3 separate regions of the Homo sapiens genome follow, and all the other regions are linked to region 1. Evidence: fine-mapped expression QTL. A gene starts in region 1. Each other region holds a variant in brackets. All regions are shown on one strand. Distances are from middle to middle. Region 1 holds the start of CYP2W1 (cytochrome P450 family 2 subfamily W member 1). Region 2 overlaps CHLSN (cholesin). Region 3 overlaps CHLSN (cholesin).

Region 1 (6,912 bases):
CATTCCACGAGGCCTGGGCCGGGTTAGCTCCACTTCGGACTGGAGGATCCACTCACGATGGCACACGTGGCTGGCAGGCAGGTGGGCTCAGTGTCATGTGGAAGCCTGGCCACGGTTCCGTGGGCCTGGGTTCCCCTCCACATGGGCCCCTCTACGAGCTGCTGGGCTTCCCCACAGCATGGCGGCTGGGTCCACGGCACAGGTGTCCTGGGGAACCAAGAGGAAGCTGCATCACTGTTTGGGATCCAGCCTCCACTGTGACCACAAGTGCCCACCCAGATTCAAGGAGTCAACTAAAGGAAAATTTTGCTTTCGAAGAAGTAAAGTTAGTTTTATTCAGATTCCTATTGAGCATTGCAATCCGGGAGGGTGTTTCAGAGTTTCAGTTCGACTGCTCCAAAGCAATGTTTCGGGCCTCAGCTTATCAACGGGTGGCGGAGGCTCTGCACCTGCTCAGGGGGTACCTTAGAGCCAAATGCGATCGTCAAAGTTTCGGTGCAAGAGTCCATCTCGTCATAGATTACAGCCACTGATCCTGTCAGACGTTATCTTATGTGCAGGAGGAGACAAGGGCTAGGATCGTTGACCTTATCTTTTTAAAAAACGCAGTGATTTGGCCGGGTGTGGTGGCTCACACCTATAATCCCAGCACTTTGGGTGGCCACGGTGGGCGGATCATCTGAGGTTAGGAGTTCAAGACCAGCCTGGCCAACATGGTGAAACCCCGTCTCTACTAAAAATACAAAAATTAGCCGGGCGTGGTGGTGAGTGCCTGTAGTCCCAGCTACTCGGGAGGCTGAGGCAGGAGAATCGCTTGAACCTGGGAGGCGGAGGTTGCAGTGAACTCCAGCCTGGGCAACAGAGAGGGAAACTCCGTCTCAAAAAAAAAAAAATGCAGGGATTCAAGCAAGAGCCGTGGGCACCTGCGCCATGCCTGCTCAGTCTCTGGGACATTCTTCCAGGGGGCGCGCCCAGTCACTGAGGCAGGGCGCACACTTTTTTCCGCACAGTTGCAAGGATGCCTTAAACTAAATTTCTGGAAACCGGGTCACTGAGCCAAGGGACAGTTCCTTTTTGATGTCTGGTGGATCTCTAGTACACTGCAAAAGCGTCCCGTGAAACTCCACTGGTGGAATGAGCAAACACGGCTTCTGGCCTCTGCTACTTTGTGTCACAAAGGGGGAAGACCACAAGCCCTCCTGTGGAGGGAGAAGCGCAGTGTTACGTTACGCAAAGACAGTGTGGTTGGGAGAATCTGTGCGGCCATCTCTGGAAGCCGCCATCTGCCACAGCCGACAGGTGCGGGCCTGAGTTTGGAACCAGGTCTGTCTGACTCCAGCCCCTCCGGGGGAGCCCACCTACCCACCCACCTCACCCACCCTGCCTCTGATGTCAGGGGCAGGCAGGACCTGAGCCAGCCAATCACAGCACTGCATTCCTCCTGGTCACAGAGATGGCTCAGGCCTGAGTATCTGTCTGGCAGGCCTGGACCAATCAGGTCTGATCAGAACAGTCCCAAGTTCCACTTGAGCAGCCAGGCTGCAGTTGGCACACGTCTCTGCAGGGCGCTGGAGGTCCACCGGACATCAGAAAGCAACAATGCCTTGGCTCAGCCACCTGGTTTCTAGGAATTTATTTTAAGATATCCTTGCAACTGTGCCCATCCTTGCAAGTATGCACACAGATATTTTTATCAGGATGTTCTGTGACAGCCTAAGATTGGAAACAATGTAAATATGCAAATATGCACACCCGGCCATGCCCCCCAGAGCAAGCAACACGTACAGGCAGCCGTTAGAGGAGTACTGTTAATTCCCCAGTAACAGTTACTTTTTTTTTTTTTTTTTTTTTGAGATGGAGTCTCACTCTGTTGCCCAGGCTGGAGTGCAGTGGTGCCATCTCAGCTCACTGCAAGCTCCGCCTCCCGGGTTCACGCCATTCTCCTGCCTCAGCCTCCTGAGTAGCTGGGACTACAGGCGCCCGCTATCACGCCCGGCTAATTTTTTGTATTTTTAGTAGAGATGGGGTTTTGCCGTGTTAGCCAGGATGGTCTCGATCTCCATCTCCTGACCTCGTGATCCGCCCACCTCAGCCTCCCAAAGTGCTGGGATTACAGGCATAAGCCACTGCGCCTGGCCAACGAGTTACTTTTAAAAGAGGGCTGGGCACTGTGGCTCACGCCTGTAATCCCAGTGCTTTGGGAGGCCAAGGCAGGTGGATCACTTGAGGTCAGGAGCTCGAGATCAGCCTGGCCAACATGGCAAAACCCCATCTCTACTAAAAATACAAAAATTAGCTGAGTGTGGTTGCATATGCCTGTAATCCCAGCTACCCGGGAGGCTGAGGCAGGAGGATCACTTGAACACGGGCGATGGAGGTTGCAGTGAGCCAAGATCATGCCACTGCACTCTAGCCTGGATGACGAGAGTGAGACTCCATCTCAAAAAAAAAAAAAAAGAAAAGAAAAGAAAAAGAGGCCGGCCCGGCATTGGCTCATGCTAGTAATCCCAGCGCTTTTGGAGGCGGCCACAGTAGGATCGCTTGAGCCCAGGAGGAGTTGAAGACCAGCCTCTAGACTCCGTCTCTAAAAGAAACTTACAAAATTCCCAGCACTTTGGGAGGCCGAGGCGGGCGGATCATGATGAGGTCAAGAGATCGAGACTGTCCTGGCCAACATGGTGAAACCCCGTCTCTACTAAAGATACAAAAAGTAGCCAGGTGTGGTGGCATGTGCCTGTAATCCCAGCTACTCGGGAGGCTGAGGCAGGAGAATCGCTCCAACCCGGGAGGCGGAGGTTGCAGTGAGCCGAGATCACGCCATTGTAGTCCAGCCTGGCAACAGAGTGAGATTCCGTCTCAAAAACAACAAAAACCCAAAACTTAAAAAATTAGGCCAGGTGCAGTGGCTTACACCTGCAATCCCAACACTTTGGGAGGTCGAGGCAGGAGGATTGCTTGAACCCAGGAGTGTGAGACCAGCCTGAGCAACGTAGCAGGACCTCCATTTCTACATAAATAAATAAATAAAGTTAGCTAGGCTGGGTGGTGCATGCCTGTAGTCCCAGCTATTTGGGAGGCTGAGGTGGGAGGATGGCTTGAGCCCCGGAGGTGGAGGCTGCAGTGAGCCTGTACTCACAGCACGGTAATCCAGCCTGGGCAACAGAGCAAGACCCTGTCTCAAAAACAAAACACACAAAAATCAAAAGTATTCCCTGAATTAATTAAGTAAGCTTTGCTAGGCAGGTAGGACCCCCAGCCTACCCAGTAGTGGCCCTGGTATGAGGCACTCCCTCCCCGCCGCAGCCGCCCAGCCCTGGCCCTGAGGCTGTACAGCAGGATAGAGGTAGTGAGCTCCCCACCACAGGAGGCGTGCAACTGTGCCTGGGGCTTTCCCTCCCAGCTAATCAAGGGGGACCAACCCGGGAGGGGTGAGGGCCTCAGGCTGCCTCGGCTCTGCGGTTCGTACAGGGCATGGGCAACGCCCCAGAGACAGGCTGTGGGGAGGGTCCCGCCTGCTGGCACCAGCTCCAGCTGCCTCATGTCAGGGCAGGCTGTGCAAAGCAGGCCCGGCCGCTTCTGCTGCCAGCAGCCCTCCCACCCCTCACAGCGGTTTAGGAGACAGATGGACAGGGCTCGTAAACCCCGCCACCTGCCACCCGGCAGCCCTTCCATGTTCCTGTCCTAGCTCAGAGGGTTGCATCCCCTGCCCGGGCGGCAGCCCTCGAAAAGGAGCAGGCTGCTACCTGGGGCGAGAACACCCTCAGGGAGATGCAGGTGGTGGCCTGTGAGGACTGTGGGATTTGAGTCCCCTCATGGGCCTCCCTGAGGTCTCACTCCTGTCCCTTGCCCCGTGGGGAGCTGATCAGAGAAGAGCTGGGTGCACACGGATGGGGTTTGGGAGAGGCCTGCAAACCCTGAGCTCCACAGGGTCCCACTCAGAGCCTGTGAAAGGCAGGGGGCTCCCCTCCAAGCCAGGGCCTCGGCCCCAAAGCCCTGTGAATCCCAGTTCTGAGGGGTGGCCAAGGCCAAGGGGCCTGGACTGGCAGGTTCAGCAGAACCAGGGGCAGAACAGTCCACGTGCCACATCCTTCTCTCTGGCCAGGAGACATGGATGCCTGACCCCAGAGGGCCCCCGTCCTGCCCTCCCCTCCCCGGCCCCACCAGGGCCTCAGCCCCACATTCCACGCAGGCCTGCAGCTTTAAGCCATCCGCTGGGGGCTGCCCTGCAAACTGCTCGTTCCACATTCTCGGGGTGGTGGGGTGGGTGGGGTGCGGGCACGCCCTCCCGCGGAGGCCTATAAGGGTGCGGGGGGGACGGGGCCCAGGAGGGGAGTGGAGCCTCACCAGCCACGTCCTCATGGCCCTGCTGCTCTTGCTGTTCCTGGGCCTCCTGGGGCTCTGGGGGCTGCTCTGCGCCTGCGCCCAAGACCCCTCCCCAGCTGCCCGGTGGCCCCCGGGGCCTCGCCCGCTGCCGCTCGTCGGGAACCTGCACTTGCTGCGTCTGTCGCAACAGGACCGGTCCCTGATGGAGGTAAGTCAGGGAGCCCGGGCAGCTCTTGCCGCTTGGACAGCTGCCGTGTCCTGGCCCCCCTCCTGGGGAAGCCCAGCCCGGTTTCCACTGCCTGTTCCCACATGGTGCCGGGCCCAGCGGGGCACGCAGGAGGCCGGAGGGCCCACCCTGCTTTTGGGAGGGGAAAGCCACCCCGTCCCACAGGGAAGCAGACACACTGAGTACGAAGAAGCCCTGGAGGTGCCACCCAGGGCCCGGCGCGGGAGCAGGAGTCTGGAGGGCTCCCTGGAGGCGGTGGCGTCTGCTGAGAGCCCGCAGGAGGCCAGGCTTAGGGACAGCAGAGGGGAGGAGGGCCTGGGCCTGTCGGCTGCCTGCTCAGCCCCCCTCGGCCCTCAGGTGTTCAACAGCAAACACTTCCCACTTTTGAGCCTCTGTTTCCTCATCTGTGAAATGGGAAGAGGACCTGTGCCTCCTGGGCAGGGATGCTGAGGACAGAGGGTACGGGGACACGGCACGGGGCAGCCTGACTAGCACTGTCGCTCTGTCCTCGCTCAGGCAGGCAGGGTCAGTGGGACAGGGCTGACCAGTCAGGCCCGGGCCCTGCCTCCGGCTGCCCCCAACTGCGGGCTGGGGTGCTGCTGGCCGGGCTGTAGCCGAAGACGGATCAGGGTCTCTGGGGGCCGAGCCTGTCAGGCCCTCACTCTGTGCAGACTCTGGCCTTTCAGAATGTGCCACCCCAGCAGACAGCCAGCCCCCGACCTTGCCGCCTGGACTCAGGGCTTGAGCCCCCCAGGAATTTTGGCTAAAAAGAAAATCCCACAACAGCCATGCCAAGCACCAGATGGCGAGAGGGCTCTGTGGGCTCCAGGCTGGGCGCTGCCCCCTCCACCCTGCACCACTGGCTTTATGGCATCTAGGCGTGCCCCCTCCACCTGCCCCCATTTTCCCTCTGTCCCCACCCCTACCCAGCACAGGCCCGGCCTGAGGGGACCTAAGGGGGGTCTTGTGGGTGAGGGCTGCCCGGGTGACCCCCGCCATCCCTGCCAGCTCTCAGAACGCTACGGGCCGGTGTTCACCGTGCACCTGGGGCGCCAGAAGACGGTGGTGCTGACGGGGTTCGAGGCGGTCAAAGAGGCGCTGGCGGGCCCCGGGCAGGAGCTGGCCGACCGGCCTCCCATCGCCATCTTCCAGCTCATCCAGCGAGGTGGAGGTCGGTGTGTGGCCGGCGCTACGGGGCCTACTGGGTGTGGGGGCACCTGGACCCCAGGAGGGGTGGGGGCTCCAGCAGCGGGAGAGGCTCCCAGGGTGGCCTGGGGAAGAGCAGGCAGGAGCTGGGCCTCCGGGCTGGTGCTGAGAAGGGCCAGGTGTCCACACAGCAGGTCAGGTGCTCAGAACCAGCAAGCGGGGTTCTTTTCATCCCAAGTCAAGAGGGGCCAGGGCCAGCCCAGGGGGACGGGAGTGGGGATGGGGGTGAGGGCCCAGCCAGTCTCGCTGCCCTGTCAGCCTGCTCACTTCCTGCCCACTTGCCTGGCGGGGCTGGCTGGGGTGGGAACCTGGGCTCACCACGCACTGTATCTGCCTACAGGCATCTTCTTCTCATCTGGGGCGCGCTGGAGGGCTGCCCGCCAGTTCACGGTGCGTGCCCTGCACAGCCTGGGCGTGGGCCGGGAGCCGGTGGCTGACAAGATTCTGCAGGAGCTGAAATGCCTCTCTGGGCAGCTGGATGGCTACAGAGGTGAGCAGGGGGCCGGGGACGCCCCTCCCCGGGCCTGGACGTGCCTGAGGCCCGTCTCCCTCGCAGGCCGGCCCTTCCCGCTGGCCCTACTGGGCTGGGCTCCCTCCAATATCACCTTCGCGCTCCTCTTCGGCCGCCGATTTGACTACCGGGACCCCGTGTTTGTGTCCCTGCTGGGTCTCATCGATGAGGTCATGGTCCTCTTGGGGTCCCCTGGCCTGCAGGTGAGGAGCTGCCTCCCATCCTTGGGGTGGGGTGGAGCCTGGAGTGATGGGCGTGCAGCAGGAGGACGGGGGCCCCAGTGCTGTCCCCTCTCAGCTTCTCGGCCCTCCCACCTTGCAAAAGGAATCAGATGCAAGGGCCTGAATCAGGACCCATCCGACGTTAGCTGGTCATGTGGCCTCAAACCAGCCCCTGTGCTCTCCAGGAAATGGGGGATCCCCATCTCCCCCACGCCCTCATCAGTAACAGATGCATCTGCTCAAGAGTGGAGGTGGGAGGCAGGCATGGCTTCCCCAGAATTGCGGGGGGCTCCATGTCTGCCCCCCAAGCCCTGACAGTCCAGGCACCTTCCTGCTGACGCCCTTTACAGTGCCCCAAAACCACAAAAGTTCACCCCTCTGATGTTTGGAACTCGTGTATTTCATTTAGCTTCAAAATGTAAAGA
Region 2 (7,369 bases), 26 kb after region 1:
GCCACTTTCTAACTCTCCCACCTTGAGCTGCTGCTTTCCACCAGCCTGTTTCCTCCTTGGGAACGTGGAGTGGTGACCCCACTTCACGGGTGTTCCCAGAGCCCACGCACGGTGAGTCAGTCACAGCTGCTCTGCACACTGCCCTCCCATGGGGCCCGAGGCCACAGCACTGCTGGCCCACGGCACTGCTGCCTACGGCCCTGAACCAAGGGCGCCTCTCTCTCACCGAGCCCCCACCAGGCAGACTTCAAGCCAAGCCCATCTCCCTCACCACCGAAGATGAGCCGTCCCGCTCTTGGCCTCGTCACTGGGGGAGCAGACACAGCGAGGGGCGGGTGGGGTGCTCAGTGTCGCCTGTGGCTCCCACGGCACTGGGCGAGGCCTCCTGAGTGATGGCCGCCTCTGCCACCCACCCTGGGGACTGGTCCCTGCGCAACTGCAGACAGTTCACAGGATGCCTGACACAATCCTCTTTCTCTCTGCCTAGGTGGGGCAGCAGACAGGAGATCCCATCTTGGAAAAGGAAAGAGAGCAGTCAGAGGGAAGTCCCTTGTCCCCAGCATAGCGGGGGCCACGGCCACTGCAGGGTCATCTGTCCAGAGCTGCCTAGAGCGTCCCAGAGAGAAGAACCTCCTCCCCTGTGGTACTCACCAGCTGGGTGGAGAACCAGAGTCCCTGCTAGCCTACTGGGCTTTAAAAAAAAGCAGGGGCGGCTGGGAACAGTGGCTCATGCCTGTAAGCTGAGCACTTTGGGAGGCCGAGGGCGGATCACAAGGTCAGGAGACTAAGACCATCTTGGTTAATACGGTGAAACCCTGTCTCTACTAAAAATACAAAAAATTAGCCGGGCGTGGTGTCGGATGCCTGTAATCTCAGCTACTCAGGAGGCTGAGGCAGGAGAATCGCTTGAACCTGGGAAGCAGAGGTTGCAGTGAGCCGAGATTGCACCACTGCACTCCAGCCTGGCGACAGAGTGAGACTCCATCTCAAAACAAACAAATCAACCCACAAAAAGCGGGGACTTCTTGCTGAACCCCCTTCCAAAAGAAAACTGAGCGAGGGTCTCTATTGAGACAGCATCTGAAGCCGGCCCGCAGCCACAGCGTCCACGTGCTCGTAACTGCACCAGGAACTGCCAGCCGCGGTGAGCTGACGACCCAATGCCCATGAAGGCCCGAGCGGGGCTGGCGCGGACAGGGGCCGGGTCTCATGGGTTGGCCGCTCCTCCCATACTTGGAGCTGGGCTGTCCCTCGGCAGCGGGGCAGTGGGCCTGGGTAGGGAAGGACACCCAAGAAGTGTCCCCTAAGCTCCGCTGATGGGACAGTTTGGCCTCTGCTCTGGCCTGTCATTCCAGGGTTCCAGGCCCGGAGGCCACGGGGTGCAAGGAAGCTAAGACACCATGCTGTGCTGGGCAACATGGGGACCTGAGGAGGGTGGGCTTGGGCTGCCCCACGGCAGGAGTGACTTGCTCTCGTCCTCCCGCAGGTGAGTGGGGGACCCCGTCCCGGCTGGATCCGTGTGGCCCGGGTCCCAGTTCCTCTCTCTCCTGTGGGGGCACCACCTCCCGCCTCGAGCAGACCCAGGCAGGGGGCCGGCCCCCGAAAATGGTGAGCTAAAGCCTGCAGGGACCAGGGAGGCAGCGGTCACCTCGCCACCTGCCCCCAACGTGAACACCCAGCAGGCGTGTTCTTTTCTTTTTTCAGTTATATGGAAAGTAAATCTTCAATTTCCTGCGTTAAGCATATAAATAAACTCTTTTTTCTCTTTAATGAGGAACAGGCTTGCCCGCTGACAGCCGTGTGCCTCGCTCGTGTAACTACCACAGTGGACCCAGCAACCCAGAGACCCACAGAAAGTGGAGGGACTGCTTCCAGCACTCCCAAACTTCCGCCTATGCAAGGCCAGAGCAACACGGCTCTGAGCTGGAAAAACAGAGCTGGGTGACCAAGCCTGGGGCCCCTGCTGGGAAAACGAGGGGACAGTCACAGCACAGGGAAAGAGCACACGACGGCCACAGTGCAGGGAAAGAGCACACGACGGTCACAGCACAGGGAAAGAGCGCACGACAGCCACAGCGCAGGGAAAGAGCGCACGACGGCCATACTGCAGGGAAAGAGCGCACGACGGCCACAGCGCAGGGAAAGAGCACACGACGGCCACAGCGCAGGGAAAGAGCACACGACGGCCACAGCGCAGGGAAAGAGCGCACGACGGCCATACTGCAGGGAAAGAGCACACGACGGCCACAGCGCAGGGAAAGAGCGCACGACGGCCACAGCGCAGGGAAAGAGCGCACGACGGCCACAGCGCGGGGAAAGAGCGCACGACGGCCACAGCGCGGGGAAAGAGCGCACGACGGCCACAGCGCGGGGAAAGAGCGCACGACGGTCATACTGCAGGGAAAGAGCGCATGACGGTCACAGCGCAGACAAAGAGCGCACGATGGCCACATTGCAGGGAAAGAGCACACGACGGCCACAGCGCAGGGAAAGAGCGCATGACGGCCACAATCCCCCATCCCACCCTCTGGACCCTCCTCTCCCCAGCCCTGCTGCACAGCTCCCACCAGCCCCAGCTTCACACAAAGCCAGGAGCACCCCAGGAAGGCTGCAGAGAAGATGAACCCTTGAGATGCAAGAACAGCCCAGGGTATGGTCACAGGTCACAGGCCAAGGTCACCGTGTGGGGATGCTGCCCAGCCTGCGACCCGGGTTCTAGGGACGGGGCATGAAGACCCCACGGGCGCTGGGTCGACGTGTCTTGGGGGCAGAGCCTTCGGGGGATCTGGAGGGGAGACCCCCAGGGCATCCTGGAATGGGTGGGGTGCCTCCCAGAGAGATGAGAGGAAACTCTCCACCATGAGGGCTCACCAGAACAATCCGGGGTCTCCTCCACACACAGCCCACCTGGCTGCAGATGGCTTTGCCTCCAGGAGGAACCCCTCGTGGAAAGCCCATAAGATGGCCATGGGCCACGGCGGCCAGCATGTCCTTCCTGAGTCCCAGTCCAGGGCCTCTGCAGGGGGAGGACAACTCGGGCACCTACCTTCACCGCTGCCCCTGGGCTGGGGGCTCTGTGGTGGGCCAGCCGTGGCGTGGCCAGTGGTCCCCAGCAGCCCCCAGGCTGAGGACACTCCCCTGTGGGAATCCCCGGGCTCCCTCTCTTTGGAAAACCCTGAGTTGCCAGGGATACCGTGGGCTCCACACATCCACGTGGGCTCTGATCTGGCAGCCAGATGCGGCTGGGCTTGCGGGCACCCTTGGAGACCCCCAGGAAAGAGGAGAAGCTCCTGCCGGGGTGCCCGTGTCTGTGGCTGGCCTCCTGGTGTGTGGATCCCAGGCCTTGGAAGAAGCTCCTGTGGGAAGGGGCTGCTTTGTTTCTGAGAAGTAAGAGTCCCCCCTCCTCCCACACGCAGGACACAGTGCCTCCGCACAGGACTTGCCGCTGGGGGGTTGCGAGTAGCATGAGGGGGCCACGGGAAGGTCCCAGAGGGGGAGAGGAGGGTGAGGCTGAGGACAGGAGCAGGGCATGCTCCCAGGCACTCAGGACCTTCCCGTGGGGTGCTCGGAGGGTGTGTGATCATGGGAGGGGAGTCAGGGCGCCTCCAGGGTGAAGACCAGGGAGTGGCAGCCACGTGGTGGAGCGGATGGTCCCCCCTCTCCTGCCCACGTCCCCAACGTCCCCCTTGTCTAACAGTCCACACTGAGAGCAGCGGAAGGTGCTGGCAGGCCTGGGGAGGAAGGCGGACAAACCCCGCCCACCCCAGGCATCAGGGCAGGTCCAGAACAGCCACGCCCCGAGGCACCTGCCAGTGGAGACAGGCAAGGTGCAGGTGGCACAGCTGCAGGCCCCAGTCGCCCTCTGCCTCCCACAGGGAGCCTACAGTCCATTCCTGCGGCTGGCACCTTCCAGGCCTGTGTCCACCTGCTCTGCCCAGCCCACACCTTGCCCACACCTGGGCTCGAGACGCTGCACTAACGGCCTCTGAAGCCCTCTCTGTCTACAGCGACTGACCCTGCGGTGGCTTGTGGCCCTGCCTGCAGAGAAGCAGGAGCAAGCGCAGGAGGCAGCAGCCTCACACCACAGCCAGCACCTTGGGTCCCCTGGGCCAAGCGCGTTCTTGGAGCAAGAAAGAGCTCTTGGGGTAGCCCTGGGCACCTGGCCTCAGCCCCACGTTCCTCAGGGAGAGGGAAGCTAAGCCTCCCAGAGAACTGACCAGTGCAGAGACCCATGATGACTCAACT[G/A]GTTCCAGCCGGATCCACCCAACGCTATGGCTGAGCTCATTCTATGACCCCCAAGGCAGCCTCAGCTCCGAGAAACAGGAGGCTTGCCCCCATCCCCATTTCCTGAGCCCGGCGCTGAGCCTGGTGCAGGGCAGCCAAGAGCCCCTCTCCTGTAGGTGGAGGACCGTCCTGGGGATGCACACACAACACACATGTCCACACATAAACACACACGTGCATAAACACACACGCACACACGCACATGTACACACGTGTATACATGTACACACGCACATATACACAACGTGTATACACACGCACACACGTAAACACACGCACACACGTGTACGCAACACTCGTATACACATGCACACACGTACACAACACACGTATACACATGCGCATACATGCACACGCACACCCCCTCATGCGAACACACATGCGTGCACACACACCCATGCGAACACACATACACGCACACACACACACATACACATGCACACACGTACACACATGCACACACGTACACGTGCACGTGCACGCAGCGTGCACATCCACGCAGGCCCCGCTGCTCATTCCGCTAGCTGCACAGCCACACTGGGGGTCATCTCTCCGAGGAGGTCATCTCTCCGAGGGCCTCCCACAGAGGTGCGGCTGGAGCCTGTCCTCCCAGGCAGGGCCAGTGCCCCCACAGGACACCCTGCCCCTCAGGGTGACTTCATCACAGGGACCCAGTTCTTGTCTCTGAGGAAGCCAGCCACGTGGACGCCGTGACACCCCTTATTCTAGGTGCAGTCAGCACTCAGGGAGACGGACAGGAACGGGCAGCAGCCTGTGCTGGTAAGCGCCGGGGAGGTGGCCACAGCCCGCAAGGCTGTGGAGCCCACGCCAAAGCCTCTGACCCCTGCAATCCTGCACCGTCCACCCAGCCACGCCGCAGGCACCATCCACCCAGCCACGCCGCAGGCAGCCAGGGAGATGGCACCCTGTGCCCAGCACCCCACAATCCCCGTCTTCCCGCTCTTGGGTGGCAGTGGCGCCTCCTGTCACTGTGAGTGAGGGCTGAAGGCCACCACGAGTTCCCTCCTCCTCACCCCCACGTCCAAGCAGCACCCAGGCCCGTGGATTCTTCCTGTGGTGACGTACACCTGGGGCAAGGTTCACCATCAGACCCATTTCTAAAAGCACAGTTCCAGGCAACCCCTGCACGGGCAGCGGCTCTGCTGCCGCCCCTGAAAGTTCCTGAAGGCTCTGGGCCATTCAGACAGAAAGGGCAGCGGCGGCAGCACAGGCCTGGCATGAACGCTCATACCTCACTGCTCTAGAACCTTCCACACAGTGTGTGCGAGTGAAGGCTTCGACCCCCTCAGGCAGGGGTTGAGACGCACGTCCGGGACAGAACCGCGTGGGGCAGGGCCGCTCACCTGCAGAGGTAGTCCAGGGCCAGTTCGGCCCCCGAGCGCCTGGCAGGCGGGTGCTGGGCCACAAGGCCTGCCTCCCGCAGACGCTGCCTCTCCTCTTTCTTCCGTTCCTTTTTCAGCTTCCTTTCCAGGACCCTCTGCTCCTCTGGGGACAGCTCTGGCTCTGCGTCCAGCCCGGGCCTGAGCACAGCTTCGCCCTGAAAGTCAAGGAACACATTAGGCTTCGGGGATGGAGGGTATCCAGAGACGGGTGCGCTGCCTGGGGCTTCCCGAGCCCACCCTCACCTCAGTAGTGGCCAAAAGCTCTGTCCCCAAGCACTGGGTCTGGCCCCAGCCGACACCATCCTGCTAAGCCTGTGCTACGACGAAGAGACAGACAGGTCACATGAGGATGGCCAGTCCTGCGGGCAGGCGCCAGGTGCCAGGATTAACTGCCCAGAGGCCCCTTCCCCACCCCCGTGGTCCACCTCCCACAGACTCCCGGCTCCCGAGGCTCTGTGAGGTCCTGCCCCACCCCACACAGTGTGGGAAGATCCGGGCCGGCCCCCAGGGAGGGCTGAAGGTGTGCTGGTGTCTGTTATCACACAGGCCAGGTGCTGGCCCCAGACCCGACCCAAATCCCGAGGACGGTGCCTGGGGCCTGCTGCTTTCTGGCAGGTCACTGGCTGCCTGGCTCCCCCTGGGCTGCAGGCTGGGGACAGGGAGGGGGCCAAGACCCCCAAGGGAGGGAGAGGGCCCGCTGTGACAATGTGTCCCCAGCCACATCTTGCCAGGAAAGCACAGGCCCTCCGTCTTGCCCACCCTCCCCTCATTAACAAAAGAAGAGGACGGTGCAAAGCGTCAAAGCCGGGGCAGCCGGGCCACGGGGTGACCATGAGGTGACCCCAGCCGCTGTCCACATGCTTCGTCTTTTTTGGAAAAGTCAGAACATCAGTGTAGACTCCGAGCAAGGCCAGGAGCCCAGGGAAACAGCTAGGGGCGTGGGAATCAACCAGGCAGCGCCCACCGGGAGCTTCCAGGAAGGGAGGCCGGGCACAGCCCACGCCTACGCATCCCACCCCAGGGAGAGCAAAGAAGAGTGAGGCAAGCCCCCCTACATACAGATATATATGCAACCCACCCCCCCGACACAGACACACACATTCACAGACTTCACCCCTACAGCCAAACACAGCCCCCAACCCTCACCCATGTACCCACACCGACCCACACCCACCCACACCCACCATACACCCACACTCACCCACCCACACCCACAGACACGGACACATACCCACACCCACAGACACCCACATACCCACCCACCCATACCCAACACACCCACACCCAGATACCCACACATAGACCAACACCCACACGCCCAGACACCCCCACATGCCACACACCCACATACAACCACACACACCGACACCCACACACATCCAACAAATCCACAGACACCCAGACACCCACAGATACCCAAACACCCACAGACACCCAGAAACACCCACACACCCAAACACGCCCACAGACACCCAGACACACCCACACCCAGACACACCTTCACACGCCCAGACACCCTGACACACCCACACCCAGACACCTGCAGACACCCACAAACACCCAGATACCCAAACACACCCAAACACATCCACACACCATCCCAACATACCCACAGCCACACACGCCCACACCCAGATACACACCCAGACACCCACAAACACCCAGATACCCAAACACACCCA
Region 3 (7,369 bases), 110 kb after region 1:
TTCATTTAACAAAATTAGGAAAGAAAATAAACGTTAAGTTGAGGGTTCTGCCCACCTTTAAACTTCCTGCCACGCCACGGTCTAATACGTTCCAAAATTTCTACATTTAAAGAGCAAAACAAGTCCTCTGTGCCGTTTTTAAGAAATTAAATACAGAGGCGAAATGCGGAGTCTTTCAACCTTCCCGACAGAGCCTGAGAGCAGAGGCATTTATGCTGTTCAATGGTATTATCTACTAAAGATGAATCAAGAGTGCAAAATAACCAAAATCAAATTCACCAGCCCCAGCTAAGTGAAGGTTATTCAGTACTTTTAGAATAACTGACACAGAGGCAGTGATTCATCTTGTCTTCCCCACCCGCCTGTTTTTGAGATGGGGCCTCACTGCAGTAGCTCAGGCTCGAGTGCAGTGGTGTGATCTCGGCTGAGGCTCGAGTGCAGTGGTGTGATCTCGGCTGAGGCTCGAGTGCAGTGGTGTGATCTTGGCTCACTGCAACCTCTACCTGCCAGGCTCAGGCGATCCTCCTGCCTCAGCCTCCCGAGTAGCTGGGACTACAGGCGCACACCACTATGCCCAGCTACTTTTTTTGTCTTTTTTTAGTAGAGACAGGGTTTCGCCATGTTACCCAGGCTGGTCTCGAACTCCTGAACTTGAGCAATCCTCCCACCTCATCTTCCTGAAGTGCTGGGATTATAGGCCAGCCTTTTTTTTTTTTTTTTTTTTAAGTAAGTATTTTCAAGCAATAGGTCAACAAATCTCTAGTCTGGTTTTGCAGCACTTCAAAACAATAACCCCTGGCCCGGCGCGGTGGATCACACCTGTAATCCCAGCACCGTGGGAGGCCAAGGCGGGCAGATCACTACAGGTCAGAAGTTCGATACAAGCCTGGGCAACATGGTAAAACCCCATCTCTACTAAAAATATAAAACATTAGCCAGGCGTGGTGGTGCACACCTATAATCCCAGATACTCAGGAGGCTGAGGCAGGAGAACCACTCTAACCCGGGAGGCGGCAGTTGCAGTGAGCCGAGATTGTGCCACTGCACTCCAACCTGGGTGACCAAAAAAAAAAAACATTCAAAACAATAACTCCTAATGATTTCAAAAGGTAAAATGAAAATTCCCAAAGGAAAAACAACTCAAACCCATTTTGAAGTGTTAGTTTACTCCAGGGCACCAGCACCATCTGGGCCAGGTAATTCTCTGCTGGGCTTGGGCACCTGTCCTAGGCACTGTAGGGAGCTGAGCGGCAGCCCTGGCCCCACCAGCACCCCCCTGTGACTGCCCCCGCATCCCCAGAGACTGCCAGTGTCTGCAGGCTGAGACCCCCGTGGCCCGCTGCATAGAGAACTTCCAGGAGCACAGTGACACGGGGCAGGTGACGGGACCCTCCCCACTGGCGGCAGAGCCGGGGTGACACGGGGCAGGTGACAGGACCTCCCCACTCGCAGCAGGGCCAGGGTGACACGGGGTGGGTGATGGGACCCTCCCCACTGGCGGCAGAGCCGGGGTGACACAGGGCAGGTGATGGGACCCTACCCACTGGCGGCAGAGCCGGGGTGACACGGGGCGGGTGACGGGACCTCTCCACTGGCGGCAGAGCCAGGGTGACACGGGGTGGGTGACGGGACCCTCCCCACTGGCGGCAGAGCCCGGGCACCGCCGTGGGCGGACAGCCCACTTCTCCCTCTCTGCAGAGGATAAGCTCGGGAGGGACTCTCTCCCTGGAGTTTCTTCCTAGGTTACAAACAGCATTGCAAAAACATATTAGGTTTTACAATAATTTGTTAAAACATGAAATAAAAACGTACATATTATTTCCCAAAACAATGACCCCTTTCACTCTATATTACGAAAATAAGTTTATTTTTGGTACCTAGAACACAGAACTAGCATGAGGAAACCGCTGAACTTCTGTTTTATCGTAAGAGAAGATTCTGCTCTGATGTCCAGCTTTCTGGACCCACTCTCTCTCTCTCAGAAACACTGGCTTTCCCTTCCTATCTTACTTCTCCATCAGCTGCTGAAATGCATTTTCCCCTCTCCTCACAAATGCCGTTGTCCTGGGGCGGCCGTGCCCATACCTTCATTGCTTCCTGGGCCTGCTCTGTGGCTATAAAGGGAAAAACACCCCTGCCTGTGGGAGTGACTCACGTCCAGCCTCCAGCTGCAGCTGAGCAGCCGTGGGACCTGCAGGAAAGAAGGCCATGTACTTCCCACAGGCGACTCTTCCACCTCAGCTCAACCACAGCCACCTCCCGAGCTCATAAAGCTGAGGTTCTGGCCCTCCCCAGTGCTCCTGACACACCCAGACTCTACAGACACCCGGCCAGGGGAGCCAGGCCTTGTCCCAAAGCTGGGGCCACTCGATGAGACTTCATCCTCTCCTGTTGCTTCTCCAGGTACCCAGAGAGTGAGCAGCTCCACGCGGGACTGTGCACGGTGGCCGACACCCGCAGGGACGCCCGCCGGACGAGCACGCGGAGGGCCCTCGCCTCCACGGATGCACCATGCCGGTGTGAGGAGCATCTGTTCTTCCCACTCTCTGCAGTTAACAAACCCAACCCAAACCACCACAGGTGCTCCTCCTGGGGAGTTTCCTGTCTGACAAATGCCAGGCTCACTTCAAGGAGAATCACGCTTCTTTCTAAAGATGGATTCACCATTTAAAACAGAGCTCTGGGAGCCTTTCGGCAAATCTTGAAAGCTGCACGGTGCAGAGACATGGATGTGACTTCCCAAGCCCGGGGCGTGGGCCTGGAGATGTACCCAGGCACCGCGCAGCCTGCGGCCCCCAACACCACCTCCCCCGAGCTCAACCTGTCCCACCCGCTCCTGGGCACCGCCCTGGCCAATGGGACAGGTGAGCTCTCGGAGCACCAGCAGTACGTGATCGGCCTGTTCCTCTCGTGCCTCTACACCATCTTCCTCTTCCCCATCGGCTTTGTGGGCAACATCCTGATCCTGGTGGTGAACATCAGCTTCCGCGAGAAGATGACCATCCCCGACCTGTACTTCATCAACCTGGCGGTGGCGGACCTCATCCTGGTGGCCGACTCCCTCATTGAGGTGTTCAACCTGCACGAGCGGTACTACGACATCGCCGTCCTGTGCACCTTCATGTCGCTCTTCCTGCAGGTCAACATGTACAGCAGCGTCTTCTTCCTCACCTGGATGAGCTTCGACCGCTACATCGCCCTGGCCAGGGCCATGCGCTGCAGCCTGTTCCGCACCAAGCACCACGCCCGGCTGAGCTGTGGCCTCATCTGGATGGCATCCGTGTCAGCCACGCTGGTGCCCTTCACCGCCGTGCACCTGCAGCACACCGACGAGGCCTGCTTCTGTTTCGCGGATGTCCGGGAGGTGCAGTGGCTCGAGGTCACGCTGGGCTTCATCGTGCCCTTCGCCATCATCGGCCTGTGCTACTCCCTCATTGTCCGGGTGCTGGTCAGGGCGCACCGGCACCGTGGGCTGCGGCCCCGGCGGCAGAAGGCGCTCCGCATGATCCTCGCGGTGGTGCTGGTCTTCTTCGTCTGCTGGCTGCCGGAGAACGTCTTCATCAGCGTGCACCTCCTGCAGCGGACGCAGCCTGGGGCCGCTCCCTGCAAGCAGTCTTTCCGCCATGCCCACCCCCTCACGGGCCACATTGTCAACCTCGCCGCCTTCTCCAACAGCTGCCTAAACCCCCTCATCTACAGCTTTCTCGGGGAGACCTTCAGGGACAAGCTGAGGCTGTACATTGAGCAGAAAACAAATTTGCCGGCCCTGAACCGCTTCTGTCACGCTGCCCTGAAGGCCGTCATTCCAGACAGCACCGAGCAGTCGGATGTGAGGTTCAGCAGTGCCGTGTAGACAGCCTTGGCCGCATAGGCCCAGCCAGGGTGTGACTCGGGAGCTGCACACACCTGGGTGGACACAAGGCACGGCCACGTCATGTCTCTAAACTGCGGTCAGATGTGGCTTCTGGCTCCTCGGGGCCTCGCGAGGGTCACGCTTGCCTGGTCACCCTGGGGCTGCTTAGGAAACCTCACGACTGGTCACCTTGCACTCCTCACACAGAATTGCTACAATCCCAAAGCGCTCGCCCCGCAGGGTCCAAAGGCCAGC[G/A]GTGACCAGCCTGTCACCCAGCTCCTCCCCGCCAACCCTGCCTGCCGCTGCACCTGCCTGCCGCTGCAGGAAACATTTCTGACACCGTCGACCAGGAAAGCCACACGGAGAGGCCACTGTGGGTGAAGCGCCTCAGTTACACAGGAACCCTAAAGCAAATCTGCCACCGTGGGGGAACTGACGCTGGAGATGCAAGGTGCTGGTGGGTCTGAGCTGGACGTCGCGGTGTGTCCTCTGTGCCCACGGTCTGAGCTAGCTAGCGCACCGCCGAGTTAAAGAGGAGAAGGAAAACATGCTGCTCTGGTGCACGCCTGAGCGTCCTCCATCTTCCAGGATGGCAGCAATGGCGCTGTGCGGCCTCACCAGGCCCACGAGGAGCAGCAGCGCTCGGCCCGGAGCAGCAGGAAGGCCCCTCTGTGGAGCGCCCGCCGTCTGCTCCGGGGTGGTTCAGTCACTGCTTGTTGACATCAACATGGCAATTGCACTCATGTGGACTGGGACCGTGCGAGCTGCCGTGTGGGTTAGTCGGGTGCCAGGACAATGAAATACTCCAGCACCTGTGGCTGACGAATTTGTTTCTACAGAAATAACAGCTGGGGACAACTGCGGTGATGATGTAAAAACCTTCCCATAAAATGTAAGAAAAGCTGATGAGGCTGGTGACGTTCAGCCTTTGTCAATAAACCTGTCATGTGCGGATCCTTCCGGAGGCTCTGTCTTGGGGGTCTGCCAAGTGGGGTGGGACGTGGGGTGGGCATGGGGCACTCGGGAGAATCCCTCCCCCCTCACAGAAAACACAGCCCTCCCCTGCCACCCTGAAAACTCTCACAAGGCCAGCCTCTGAGTCCGGCCAGCCGGACCTAACCTGGCATTTCCAGGCTGTCCAAAATGCCGTGGGGGCACTTCTGTGTCATGCTTGGGTGCCATGACAAGCTTCCCATGAATGTAGGAGGCAGGGCTCAGCCTTGTCCAGCAGCCTGTGCGACCTAAGCTGCCTTTCTAGAAGGCTCTCGGCCGCGTGCGAGGCCCAAGAGCTCTGCGGCACCCAAGCGCTCCTGGAGCAGCCGGCCGGGAAGGTTCCTGCTCCTTCTCCCATCACCGGGGCTGGATCCTGGCGCTGCTCCCCTCCTTTCCCGCCTCACCCACCTGGCAGCAGCTGTCCCTGATGTTAACAAGGTGCACCTGAACCAGTGCCTGCTTCTCCGTCTTCACAGAAACCTGCGCAGGGCGTCGGGATGTGTGGGTGAAGGGAACTAGCCACCTGTACTACCCCCTCACTTTTCCTGTGTTTGCGGTTCTGGTCTGTTTAAAAGCTATGATACTGTTTTTTATTTGTGATAACATAAAGTTTGATATGCAAACATATTGAAAGGAAAAGGCCAATTAAAGAAAACATCTGCAAAAGAGCAGGGGGTGAACGGGTGCGGCACAATGAAGACTGAACGCAGCCATGTTGAGTCCAGGAAACTCTCTCCTCCTGTCTGTGGGACATAACACAACCACAGTGAGTCCAGGAAACTCTCTCCTCCCGTCCATGGGACATAACATAACCACACATGAGCCCAGGAAACTCTCTCTCCTCCTGTCTGTGGGACATAACACAACCACAGTGAGCCCAGTAAAACCTCTCTCCTCCCGTCTGTGGGACATGAAGCTGTGTGTCGGTGGGTGTGGGAAGCCTGGGTCTCTCAGGCAGGTGGGGCCTGTATTCTCCATGACCCCAGCACCGTGGTGCTGGGCTCCTCAGGAACAGAGCGCTGCCCAGACCGTGGCCTGCAGGAGCGGCCTCTGTGCCCACTTCTATCAGGATTGCTTTCCTCATAAATGGCTCACCGGGAAGCCTGGGAACAGGGCGGCTCCCACACACTAACAGGTCTCGTGGAAGTGGAGATTGCTGTGGGGTGGCCAAGCCAGAAGCCAGGCTCACGTGTGGCACAGTCCTGCAGAACACCGTGCGTGGCTTGAGCCACGACTCAGGCCCGGCGCACCCCTCCCTCTGCCCTTCCAGAGCCTGCCCTGCAAGTCACCCCAGCTAAAAGGACATGGCCATCACACTGACATCCGTGCTCTGGAGCTCCTTCCAGGCCCCAGGGACGAGACTTGCCCTCCTCCCCAGGGATGTACTCGCTCAATGCCCAGGACAGCCAGGCAGCAGCCCCCCAAACCCCCACCCCCCACACCTGGGCGCTGTCTTTACAACAATACCCAGGACAGTCACGCAGCAGCCCCCAAACCCCCCTCCCCGACACCCGGGCACTCTCTTTACAAGATGCATGCTTCAATGAAGCTCCCCTTTTGACCTCAGTGTTGCTGATGGGGAAAAACCATCCAAGTCCCAGAAAGCAGGCGGGGTGGGTGCTCTACCACCAGGCACCCAACTACCTGTCAGGCATTCCCCACACACAGTCCCGTTCACATAGCTTCAACAGGGGCAAGGGCAGACGCTTTAAAATACGCAGACGAGAGACCCAGCATTTCTGACTTCCAGTTCTGACGAGCTGACGTGGGGAGACCCACACGGAACGTGGTCTGGTCCCCACCCCTCACAGCAGCCCCGTGGGGTAAGCGCTGTCCCCACCACACCAAGGAGGCACTAGAAGGGTCAGTCACTGCTCGAAGCCTTAAATGGTGGGTGACACAGCCAGGAATTCAGCCACGCTCTCCTGGCTCAAAGCCCACAAGCTCTGTAGCACTCGGCAACCCCTGGCGTCTAACTGGCAAAAGCACGCCATGCAGAAATCATACAGGGCTGGGGGCCATGGGCATCGAGGGGTCACCCAAGGTCACCAGCCCAACCTCCTCTAAAGCCTGCTGTGCGGGAAGTGCAGGGACGGCAGCAGCGGCAGCGGGGAGGGCTCCCTTAAGGTGATCTGGGTGGGAACTGCGTCTGAACAGAGCCCCAGGCATCAATCAGGGACGGGACTCAACTCATTCCTCCACGTCAACCCACCACAGGGAACAGTGCTGACTGTGGCGTCCTTCCCTCCCTGCCACAGACGCGGCTTCCATCCTGCCCGCACCAGACACCGCTGTTGAGTGCGTGGAAGCGTCACGCCGCCCCACTACGCCGCTCCTCTCCGCCAGGTCTCTTCTGGGGACTTGCCCAAGGCTCTGGGCAGACAGAGCTGACACGCCGCCATCTAGCCGCCGGAAGCAGACTCTTGACCTGTGAAGCTGGCGGCGGCACTGCTCTGAGGCCAGTCACACGAGCGACAGGCACCCAGCAGCCAAGCCACCGGGCTGCGGTAAGGGCAGGTGCAA

The links. PIP is the estimated chance that this variant, and not a neighbour inherited with it, causes the effect.
Region 2: its variant is the best candidate, but not a certain one, in a credible set for the expression of CYP2W1 in thyroid (GTEx, PIP 0.58).
Region 3: its variant is the best candidate, but not a certain one, in a credible set for the expression of CYP2W1 in testis (GTEx, PIP 0.58).

What each region holds. Positions count from the first base shown.
Region 1 is chr7:978,855-985,766 of GRCh38, forward strand. It overlaps CYP2W1 (cytochrome P450 family 2 subfamily W member 1), which reads left to right and starts at 4,327. Exons shown (of 9, transcript NM_017781.3): 1 at 4,327-4,531; 2 at 5,558-5,720; 3 at 6,096-6,245; 4 at 6,312-6,469. The coding sequence starts at 4,358. It also overlaps a transcript of CHLSN not described here.
Region 2 is chr7:1,004,302-1,011,670 of GRCh38, forward strand. It overlaps CHLSN (cholesin), which reads right to left. Exons shown (of 5, transcript NM_001318252.2): 3 at 5,649-5,842. LOC124901570 (a long non-coding RNA gene) reads left to right here. Exons shown (of 3, transcript XR_007060184.1): 1 at 1-111; 2 at 488-1,144; 3 at 1,487-1,770. Among named protein-coding and RNA genes, the nearest start is that of MIR339, 15 kb to the right of the region's middle. The variant G/A (reference allele first, on the strand shown) is at 4,246.
Region 3 is chr7:1,089,004-1,096,372 of GRCh38, forward strand. All of the region lies in intron 2 of CHLSN (cholesin), which reads right to left. GPER1 (G protein-coupled estrogen receptor 1) reads left to right here. Exons shown (of 2, transcript NM_001098201.3): 2 at 2,404-4,807. The coding sequence starts at 2,726. The coding sequence ends at 3,853. Among named protein-coding and RNA genes, the nearest start is that of GPER1, 4.6 kb to the left of the region's middle. RefSeq lists an enhancer at 6,490-7,199. The variant G/A (reference allele first, on the strand shown) is at 4,109.